2 separate regions of the Homo sapiens genome follow, and region 1 is linked to region 2. Evidence: fine-mapped expression QTL. A gene starts in region 2. The other region holds a variant in brackets. All regions are shown on one strand. Distances are between the middles of the regions.

Evidence for each region. PIP is the estimated chance that this variant, and not a neighbour inherited with it, causes the effect.
Region 1: its variant is the best candidate, but not a certain one, in a credible set for the expression of HTD2 in blood mononuclear cells (TOPMed, PIP 0.59).

What each region holds. Positions count from the first base shown.
Region 1 is chr3:58,439,679-58,445,201 of GRCh38, reverse strand. The region is part of intron 1 of LOC107986092 (a long non-coding RNA gene); the gene reads right to left. Among named protein-coding and RNA genes, the nearest start is that of PDHB, 8.6 kb to the right of the region's middle. The variant G/A (reference allele first, on the strand shown) is at 2,532.
Region 2 is chr3:58,303,855-58,308,854 of GRCh38, reverse strand. HTD2 (hydroxyacyl-thioester dehydratase type 2) reads right to left here and starts at 2,335. Exons shown (of 5, transcript NM_001348712.2): 1 at 2,204-2,335. RPP14 (ribonuclease P/MRP subunit p14) reads right to left here and starts at 2,610. Exons shown (of 6, transcript NM_007042.6): 1 at 2,438-2,610. RefSeq lists enhancers at 2,045-2,174, 2,295-2,554, 2,745-2,824.

The DNA of each region.
Region 1 (5,523 bases), 140 kb before region 2:
CTGCGAAGGCCCCGAGCTCTGAGAGCCCACGGTATTTATTGGTAATCCAACAAAGAAACAGGTGTTGAGACTGTGGAGGTCAACACCTCCACATGTTCCATTAAGCACATGATTTACAGCTGTGATGGTTTAGCATTTATATGGAACATGTCCTGCTACTTGAGATAATGGGAACAGGAGCCTAGGAGGGCTAGAAGCAAGCAGCCAGCAAGTCTAGACACATTCCAAAGGACACTATGCAAGCCCTGCCTCAGTTTCCCTCCCTACACTCAGCTTTTTCCCAACAGTGGCGGGAGGGGAGAATGAAGTTATTGTTTATTGGTAGACTTTTAGCTGGGGAAGATAAAACAGTTCTGGAGATGGATGGTGGTGTGGCTAAACAGTGTGAATGTGCTTAGTGCCACAGAACTGCACAACTAAAAACGGTAAATTTTATGTTATGCACATTTTATCACAATTTTAAAACACAATCTAATTAGAATATGGTCAAAAGATGTAAACACACACTTTCACCACAGAGGATGACCTGTCACCAAAGATGGATGGCAAGTCAGCACATGGAAAGATGATCGGGCTGGGCACAGTGGTAATGGCTCATGTCTATAATCCCAGCACTTTGGGAGGCCAAGGTGCAAGGATCATTTGAGGACAGGAGTTCGAGACCAGTCCAAGCAACATGACAAGACCCCTGTCTCTACAAAAATAAAATAAAATTCACCAGGTGTGCTGGCGCACACCTGTGGTCTCAGCTATTTGGGAAGCTGAGGTGGGAGGATCGCTTAAGCCCAGACAGCAAGGCTGCAAGGATCTGTGATTGTGCCACTGCACTCCAGCCTGGGTGACATAGTAAAACCCTCTCTCCAATAATAATACTAATAATATTACCAAGTGCTGGAAAGGATCCAGATGTCTCATGCACTGGGGACATAACATAAATGACACAGCCACTCTGGAAAAAGAGTTTGGCATATTCTGAAAATTTAAACATACACATACCATTACAATCATACAATTACCATACAATCATACAATCTACGATTTCCTGCAGAAATGAAAGCTGATGCTCACCCCTAAACCTATAAGTCAATGTTCTGTGGTAAGCAGGTCTACGTAAACCCCCAAAGACAAAGGGAGGTGAGAGGCTGAAGACAAAGGGTGAAAAATCCAGTTTCTCAGAAGGAAACATTTAGTAGGGACTTACAAACAGAAGTGGCATCTCTGGCAGCCAAGTGATGGTGGATGCCCACAACCAACCTTCTTTCTGGAAAATATTCTTTAATTAGCAAGCTGTTTTTGGTAAAACATGTGCAGCTGGTCATGTCTCAGACCCTCTTATGAAACAACTAGGGACCACTGGGGAAGTTAGATAAGTATCTTTATGAGGGGTTATCTATGTACAGGCATTGTTTCTCTATGAGGAGTTGGATGCTACGGGCATTGTTTCTTGACCTTGTTGTGGGAATGGGAACGAGTTGGTATGCAGACATCAGTCATCACAGCAGTTTCGCTTCAAAATGGTGTAATCTTGCCATGCAGCAGGCTGTTTTCCTACAACCAATGTTGATAACAGCGTTATTGGTAATAGCTAAAACTGGATATAGCCCAAATGTCCTTCAATGGGTGAGAGGGTAAATTAATGCAGCCATACAACAATTTAGCAATAAAACAAAAACAAAAACAAAATTTGGCCAGGCACAGTAGCTCACGCCCGTAATTCCAGCACTTTGGAAGGCTGAGGCAGGTGGATCACTTGAGGTCAGGAGTTCGAGACCAGCCTGGCCAACATGGTGAAACCCCGTCTCTACTAAAAATACAGAAATTAGGTGAGCGTGGTGGCACGTGGCTATAGTCCCAGCTACTTGGGAGGCCGAGGCGGGAGAATCGCTTGAACTTGGGAGGTGGAGATTGCAGTGAGCCAAGATGATGCCATTGCACTCCAGCCTGGGCAACAGAGCGAAACTCTGTCTCATTAAAAAAAAAAAAAAGGAAAAAATTGATACATAATTTGAATGGATCTTGAGGGCATGTCAGTTGATGACAAGAACCAATCTCAAAGAGCTACGTATCGTATGATTCTTGAAATCATACATATTGAACATTCTTGAAATAACAAATTATAGTACTTGAGAATAGATCAGTGGTAGCCAGGAGTTAGGAGTTGGGGTAGATGTGACTGTGAGGTAACAAGGAAGTTTCTTTATGGCGAGGGAACAATTCTGTATTCTGATTGTGGTGGTAGCTACATGAAAATGTACATGTGATAAAACTCTACAGTACTACACACACACACACACACACACACACACACATACACACACACACAAATACATATACAAACTGATGAAATCTGAATAAAGTCTCTCCTGGAGTTAACAGTATAGTTGTACCAAAGTCAGTTACTGGGTTTTGATAACTGTGGCTATATATTATAACTGGGAAAAGGTATACAGAAAATCTTATTATTATTTTTATTTTTAATAGAGATGAGGTCTCACTATGTTGCCCAGGCTGCTCTCAAACTCCTGGCCTCA[G/A]GCCATCCTCCTGCCTTGGCCTTCCAAAGTGCTGAGATTACAGGCGTGAGCCACTGCACCCGGCCCAAAAACCTTGAATGAAGGACTTTCTGACAACTGACAAAGAACCCAAAATGTTCTTAAGGGCAAATATTCCGTGTAACCCTGAAAAGATTTAGTTCCGAGAGAAGACTAGTTGGCCAATTTACACCTTGAAATCTCTTTTAGGAAAATCTAGTGAGCATAGAGATGCAGTCATTTTTAAAAGATTATGGATTTAAAATTCACCACTTTGACCTTTTGTGTTTTTTACTCTGTAAACTAAAAATAAAATTATAAGACCCTCAATCAACTGAATGGACCCTCACCCCCTTGGCCAAGGGGATTCCCCAAGACAACCTGAAAAACAAGTTCAGGCCACTAGATGGGAAGGCAGGTAGGATACCCTCAGTATACTTTCCTCGCTTTGGAGTTTAGGTGCCACTGACCAGCATTAACATTAAAATACATTTCTTAAGACTGACAAAACAGACTCTTTATAGCAGTAAGATACCAAATTCCAACCTGACTCTGGTATACCATCACATGACAGATAACAGGGTCTAAAGGAAATGCAAGTATTTTACCCTAAAATATGTTTATTTGGCATATTTTGGAATGGCCCTGCAAAGCCTTGCCTTGGGGAAATTTGCATTCTGTAGAGAATCCCCTTCCTTTTCCAGGTCTTTCCCTGATCCAGGAGAAATTTAACTAAGAGTCTGACACCTTTGAAGGTCTGATAAGAGACATTTACCATCTATTTACTCTGAAGCCTGCCACTCAGAGGCTTCATCTACTTAGCAAAAACCTTGGCTTCCACAACCACTCTTATCTTAACTCAAGCATTTCTTTATGCTGACTTCAACTCTTCAGGCAAAGCTTAACTTTTTCAACCAACTGCCAATCAGAAAATCTTTGCATCCATGTATAACCTGGAAGCATCCCACCCCCGACTTGGAGATGCCCCACCTTTCCTGGCTCAACCAATGTATACCTTACATGTGTTGATTTATGTCTTTGCCTGTATGTCTTTGCCTGTCTCCGTAAAACGTATAAAACCAAATGGTAACCCAACTACTTTGAACCCATGTTCTCAGGACCTCCTGAGGCTGTGTCCTGGGCCAAGGTCACTAAATTATAAGGCTCAGAATAAACTTCTTTAAATATTTTACAGTTTGACTTTTTTCGTTAACAGCTTTCAAACAGAAAATTCCACCCAGCCTTTCCAAACTGGCCAGTTTGAGTTTGAAAGAAAGGCACATGTACTAATGAATATACTTCTTGTCAGGCCTCTGAGCCCAAGCTAAGCCATCATATCCCCTGTGACCTGCACGTATACATCCAGATGGCCTGAAGTAACTGAAGAATCACAAAAGAAGTGATATTTAAATGGCCTGTTCCTGCTTTAACTGATGCCATTCCACCACAAAATAAGTGAAAATGGTCGGTCCTTGCCTTAAGTGATGACATTACCTTGTGAAATTCCTTCTCCTGGCTCATCCTGGCTCAAAAACCTCTCCCGCTGAGCAACTTGTGACCCCCACTCCTGCCTGCCAGAGAACAACCCCCCTTTGACTATAACTTTCCTTTACCTACCCAAATCTTATAAAACGGCCCCACCCCATCTCCCTTCGTTGACTGTCTTTTCGGACTCAGCCCGCCTGCACCCAGGTGATTAAAAGCTTTATTGCTCACACAAAGCCTGTTTGGTGGTCTCTTCACACAGACGCGCATGAAACTTCTAATGTGTCTAAAATGTCCACAGTCATTATTTCAAAAGAACATTCTCAGCTGGGGCCTGTGACTCACATTGCCTTCCAGATTAGCTACACAGACTCAGCGTTCCTGGCTTTTCTGGATCTCTGTATTAAATATATCTCAAGAATACTGTCCTTTGTTTAGACCACGGTCCAGATCCTGGCTTCTCTTTGGGCTATCATTCCTTCATCTTGATGTCTCTCTCAGAGGTATGTGAACCAGAGCAACTCCATCTTGAATAGGAGCTGGGTAAAATGAGGCTGAGACCTACTGGTTAGAGACAAGACTAGCTGGATTTCCTAGGCCGACTAAAAATCCCTAAGCCTAGCTGGGAAGGTGACCACATCCACTTTTAAACACGGGGCTTGCAACTTAGCTCGCACCTGACAAATCAGGTAGAAAAGAAAGCTCACTAAAATGCTGATTAGGCAAAAACAGGAGGTAAAGAAATAGCCAATCATCTATCACCTGAGAGCACAGGGGGAGGGACAACAATCGGGATATAAACCCAGGTATTCAAGCTGGCAACGGCAACCCCCTTCGGGTCCCCTCCCATTTTATGGGAACTCTGTTTGCACTCTATTAAATCTTGCAACTGCACACTCTTCTGGTCCATGTTTGTTATGGCTCGAACTGAGCTTTTGCTTACCGTCCACCACTGCTGTTTGCCACCGTTGCAGACCCGCTGCTGACTTCCACCCCTCTGGATCCGGCAGGGTGTCCGCTGTGCTCCTGATCCAGCGAGGCACCCATTGCCGCTCCCGATCGGGCTAAAGGCTTGCCATTGTTCCTGCACGGCTAAGTGCCCGGGTTCATCTTAATCGAGCTGAACACTAGTTGCTGGGTTCCACGGTTCTCTTCCGTGACCCACGGCTTCTAATAGAGCTATAACACTCACCACATGGTCCAAGATTCCATTCCTTGGATCCGTGAGGCCAAGAACCCCAGGTCAGAGAACAAGAGGCTTGCCGCCATCTTGGAAGCAGCGTGCCACCATCTTGGGAGCTCTAAGAACAAGCCCCCCCACCACCCCCTTAACACTGGATTCCCAGACATTTAGGGCATTCTCAGTCACAGGATGAGATAGGAGGTCAGCACAAGATACAGGTCATAAAGACCTTGCTGATAAAACAGGTTGCAGGAAAGAAGCTAGCCAAAACCCACCAAAACCAAGATGGCGATAAGAATGACCTCTGATCATCCTCACTGCTACACT
Region 2 (5,000 bases):
TGAAGGTCTTCTCTGACACCCTTCTCTAAGTTAAGCCCCCATGTTATGCAATCTCTTAACACTGTCTATTTGTTTAATATATGGATCCCCCACTACAGGGAACAGGAAACTGAGGCCCAATCAAGGAAAGGGACTTATCCAAGGTCACAGAGCTATGGACCAGCATTTCAAAACCACTCTGGGTTAGACCCAGTTCCAACCACTCCCAGATGATGACCTCTGGAGAAAAGAAGTCAGGGTCAAGGAGCTACATCTACCAATCCATTCAACAAACATTAATACTTTGGGGCCTGGCGTGGTGCTCATGCCTGTAATCTCAACAGTTTGGGAGGCCAGGAGTTTGAGACCAGCCTGGGAAACATAGTGAGACCCTGTCACTAAAAAAAAAAACAAAAAAACTTAAATTAACCAGGCATGGTAGTGTGTGCCTGTAGTCCCAGCTACTCCAGGGGCTGAGGTGGGAGGATAGCTTGAGTCTGGGAGGTTAAGGATACAGTGCACTGTGATTGTACCACTGCACTCCAGCCTGGGTGACAGAGCATGACCCTGTCTCCAAAACAAACAAACAAAAAATACTGTAATACTATGACACAAAGTAGGTATTCAAATGAGAGAAAAGTGATAGTGGTATAGGCCTATATATTCAAAAGAATCCTTGGTTTCAGGACAGCGGAAATAGTTACCTGATGCTTCTTTCCCAGTCACTAGAGTCTCCCCTAACTAGAAGGGCAGGGAGAACAAGAAACCTCATCTGTTTCTTTCATTGCTTGGCACATAAATGTTTTTTAGTGTTACTGCCTTGATGGAGCTGGCTGCCTAAAATAGGGGAGTGAAATTAGACCCAGGGCTTAGATGCCAGTAAAACGAAGACTTACACAACATTCACGAGATGGACAGTGGTGATGGCTGCACAGCGTTGTGAATGTACTCAATGCTACTTACGATAAATTTTATGTCACGTATTTTTTGCAATTAAAAAAAAAAAAAAAGACTTACAAATGACAGCACTGCCCTCTGCAGGCTGTTCTGACATTAAAGGAGAGGATACCTGGGAAATTATTTTGTACAGACTGGTATTAAATATATTCACCAGGCTCTCCACAGATGTGGGCTCACGAAGTTACTGTCATCGTCATCTTTAAAGTCAGTCTTGTTGTTTGTTTTGAGATGGAGTCTCACTCTGTCGCCCAGGCTGGAGTGCTTTGGGTCGAAGCAATTCTCGCTCCTCAGTCTCCTGAGTAGCTGGGATTACAGGCGTACGTCATCACGCCCAGCTAACTTTTGTATTTTTAGTACAAATGGGGTTTCGCCATGTTGGCCCAGGCTGGTCTCGAACTCCTGGCGTCAAGTGATCCGCCGACCTCGGCCCCCTCAAAGTGCTGGGATTACAGGCATGAGCCACCGCGCCCGGCCTAGAGTCAGCCTTTTTTAGTGGCTGCGCAGGGATGCTCCTAATCTGACCTATTAGTAATAAATCTGATTCTCCCTACTCCCCCGCTTCTCCATCCCTACGGCGGCCAGTGAGTCTATTAACATCTACTCAAGCTACATCATTCCTCTGCTCAAAATCTTGCTATGGTTCCCGTTTTATCCAGAGTAAGGCCAAAGTCCTTAGAGCAGCCTGCAAGGCTCTGCCTCACCTGCAGGACTGCTCCCTCTACACCTCTGACTTCATGTCCTGCCATTCTCCCTCCGCTCAATCCCCGCCACCACACAGGCCTAGCCTAGCTCTTTCTCACGCGCCAGTCTCGCTCCCACCGCTGGGCCTCGGCTCTAGCTTTTCCCCATGCTGGGAAAGATCTTCCTCCAGGCAGCCACCGGACTCACACCCTTGCCCCCTTCCTGGCTTAGCTCAAATCTCAATCGGGTTGGCCCAGTGCCCTTCTCGGCTAACACCGCACCCCACCCCCATGCCCCGTCCCTGCTTTCTTCTTCGTAGCATTTGCCTTTTTCTATGACAATTATGTAACTCGTTTATCTTTATCTGTACTTCCCCTCCCCACCCCAACAAAAGTCCACTCCAAGAATCTTGCTATCTTGTTCACTGCTGTTTCCCAAGGCCCTAAAACACTGGGTCGTGCACAGTGGGCGTGCGACGTACAATTTTTGGACTAAATCAATCACTTTAAAAAGCTCAATATCCTTACTGCTGAGCACTTGGGTGGCTTTCAATATTTTTCAACAACCACTATTTAGCGCTCACCTCGCGCCGGGCGCATGGAGAGCGCTCAGGACACGGTCCCGAAGTCTCGCCCGGGCCTCTCGGCCACGTTCTGCGGCCGAGACCCTACGCGGCGCCGTACAGAGGCCCTCAGCGCCCGGGGTCGGAGAGGACAAGCTACCCAAGGCGCACCGCCCGCCCCGCGCATGCGCCCGGGTCGCGGCCAACTGAGACGGCTCCCAGACAACCGCCGCTCTTTGGAAGGCTTCCACCTACCCACTCTTCGTCGGACTAGCCTGACGCCTGACCAGACTCCTATTCGCCGCAAGGACCCGCCAAGGCTTGGGGCTCCCCGGCAGCAGCCACAGCTGGGCCCGAGAAACTCCTGGTGTCTTTACGTTTGGCTTCTCCTCGTCCCGCCCCACGAAGCGTGACGCCCAGGCGGATATGACGTCACCACGCGGCGTCGTCCTAAGGACCCAGGCGCGAATCCTGATCCGGAGCTGAGAGCGGCCGAGCTCAGCGCCCTCTGGTGTCCACTCCGGGAAAGCCGTGTGTGCAATTTGCTTGGGGTGCGGTTTAGGGCGGGTTTTTTCCGCCTTGGACGGTGCTTCATAGTTATCCATTTCTTCATGCATTCATTCATTCATTCAACAATTTTTTCGTTGTTTTTTTGAGACAGTTTCACTCTGTCGCCCAGGCTGGAGTGCACTGGCGCGATCTGGCTTACTGCTACCTCCGCCTCCAGGGCTCAAGCGATTCTCCCACCTCAGCCTCCTGAGTAGCTAGGACTACAGGTATGCTCCACCATGCCTGGCTAATTTTTGTATTTTTAGTAGAGACGGGGTTTCACCATGTTGGCCAGGCTGGTCTCGAACTCCTCGCCTCAAGTGATCTGCCCACCTTGGCCTCCCAAAGTGCTGGGATTACAGACGTGAGCAACTGCGCCCGAGTCATTCTACACATTTTTTTCATTATATTATAATTTATTTATTGAGATGGAGTCTCGCTCTGTCGCCCAGGCTGGAGTGCAGTGGCGCCATCTTGGCTCACTGCACCCTCCGCCTCCCTTCAAGTGATTCTTCTGCCTCAGCCTCCCAAGTAGCTGGGACTACAGGCATGCACCACCATGCCCAGCTAATTTTTGTATTTTTAGTCGAGACGAGGTTTCACCATGTTGGCCAGCATGGTCTCAATCTCTTGACCTCGTGATCTGTCCACCTCGGCCTCCCAAAGTGTTGGGATTACAGGCGTGAGCCACCGCGCCTGGCCTAATTTTTGTATTTTTAGTAGAGACAGGGTTTCACTATGTTAGCCAAGCAGGTCTCAAACTCCTGACTTCAGGCAATCCACCCACCTCGCCTCCCAAAGTGTTGGGATTACAGACGTGAGCCACCGCGCCCAGCCTACAAAATTATATCTAGCATCTCCTCTCCTCAAGATCTCCTATGTCAAGCACTCCCCAAAGATAGGACCCACTCTCAGTGTCCCTTGTGACTCCCAGCACATAGTAGGTGTTCTATCTAGGCCGTCCTGGAAAGACCCACAAAGTAAAGACTTACTTTGTGCTAGGCACTATGCAAAATATTTTACATATGTCATCTCATGGAACCCTCACACAATCCTGAGATGGCTATTACTATGATCATCACCATTTTAGAGGTAGAAACTGAGGCACAGGCCAGGCGCAGTGGCTCATGCCTGTAATTCCAGCACTTTGGGAGGCTGAGGCGGGCAGATCACTTGAGGCCAGGAATTCGAGACCAGCCTGGCCAGCATGGTGAGACCCCCATCTCTACTGAAAATACAAAAATTAGCTGGGCACGGTGGTGCACACCTGTAATCCCAGTTACTCGGGAGGCTGAAGCAGGAGAATTGCTTGAACCTGGGAGGTAGAGGTTGCAGTAAGCCGAGATCACACCACTGCACTCTAGCCTGGCAACAGGAAAAGAAACTGAGGCACAGAGAGGCTAAGTTATTTGCTCAAGATCACAGTTATAAGCAGTGGCATGGGCTGTCTGATTCTAGCCAGTGCTCTCCATACTGCACTGTATTACCACCAATTGAGGGGCTGCAGTGGGAAGGGAAACTTTAGTGTAACCCCCATGAGGATGGGGCCTTGTCTGTGTTTCTCACCACTGCATCCCAGTTCCTGGTACCCAATGGTGACCCAACATCTATTTACTGAAGGCATTTGTTCATAAATGGATGTGCTGGTTTTGCTTGGGTTGGGGGGCAAAGGGTTGCCTTGCACAGGACAGTTGAGTCAGCGGGGATCTCCTTCCTCAATTATTTTCTCAAAATCCCACTGTGTTGTTTCCAGAAGCTTCAGTCCTCAACCTTGGCCATGCTCTCCAGTTCTGTGGTTCCTACTTTCTTCTTCCTTCAGAGGAGACAGGGCTTGTTCCAGATGTGGGAAGAGGTGGAGAAAGCAAACACAGACCCCACAGACCCAAGTATTATCTTTCTCAAAAAAGCTTGATTTCAGAAGCTGCCAGAACTTGCTTCAAATGCATCCTCTGCCACTTACCTACCTCCCTCATCTGTCACATGGAGAGATTATTAGCATCTACCTCACAGAGTTGAGGGAAAAAGAGTTGATGGTATAAAGTGTCTGGCACCCCAGGAAACCCTCAGTAATGGGAGAGGGTTCCTGTAAGCCAGCTGCCTGGCAAATGTATCCTGCCAGGTGGCCCAGGAAAACCAGAGCAATTCCTGTATTTTGAACTTCAAGGAACAATAGATAATTTTCACCCTGCTGCAACAAACCCTGAAAATGAAGTGTCTTCCCAGTTGCCTGAATTCTCTCATGCTGTCTTATTAATTCAGAGCGGAGGAT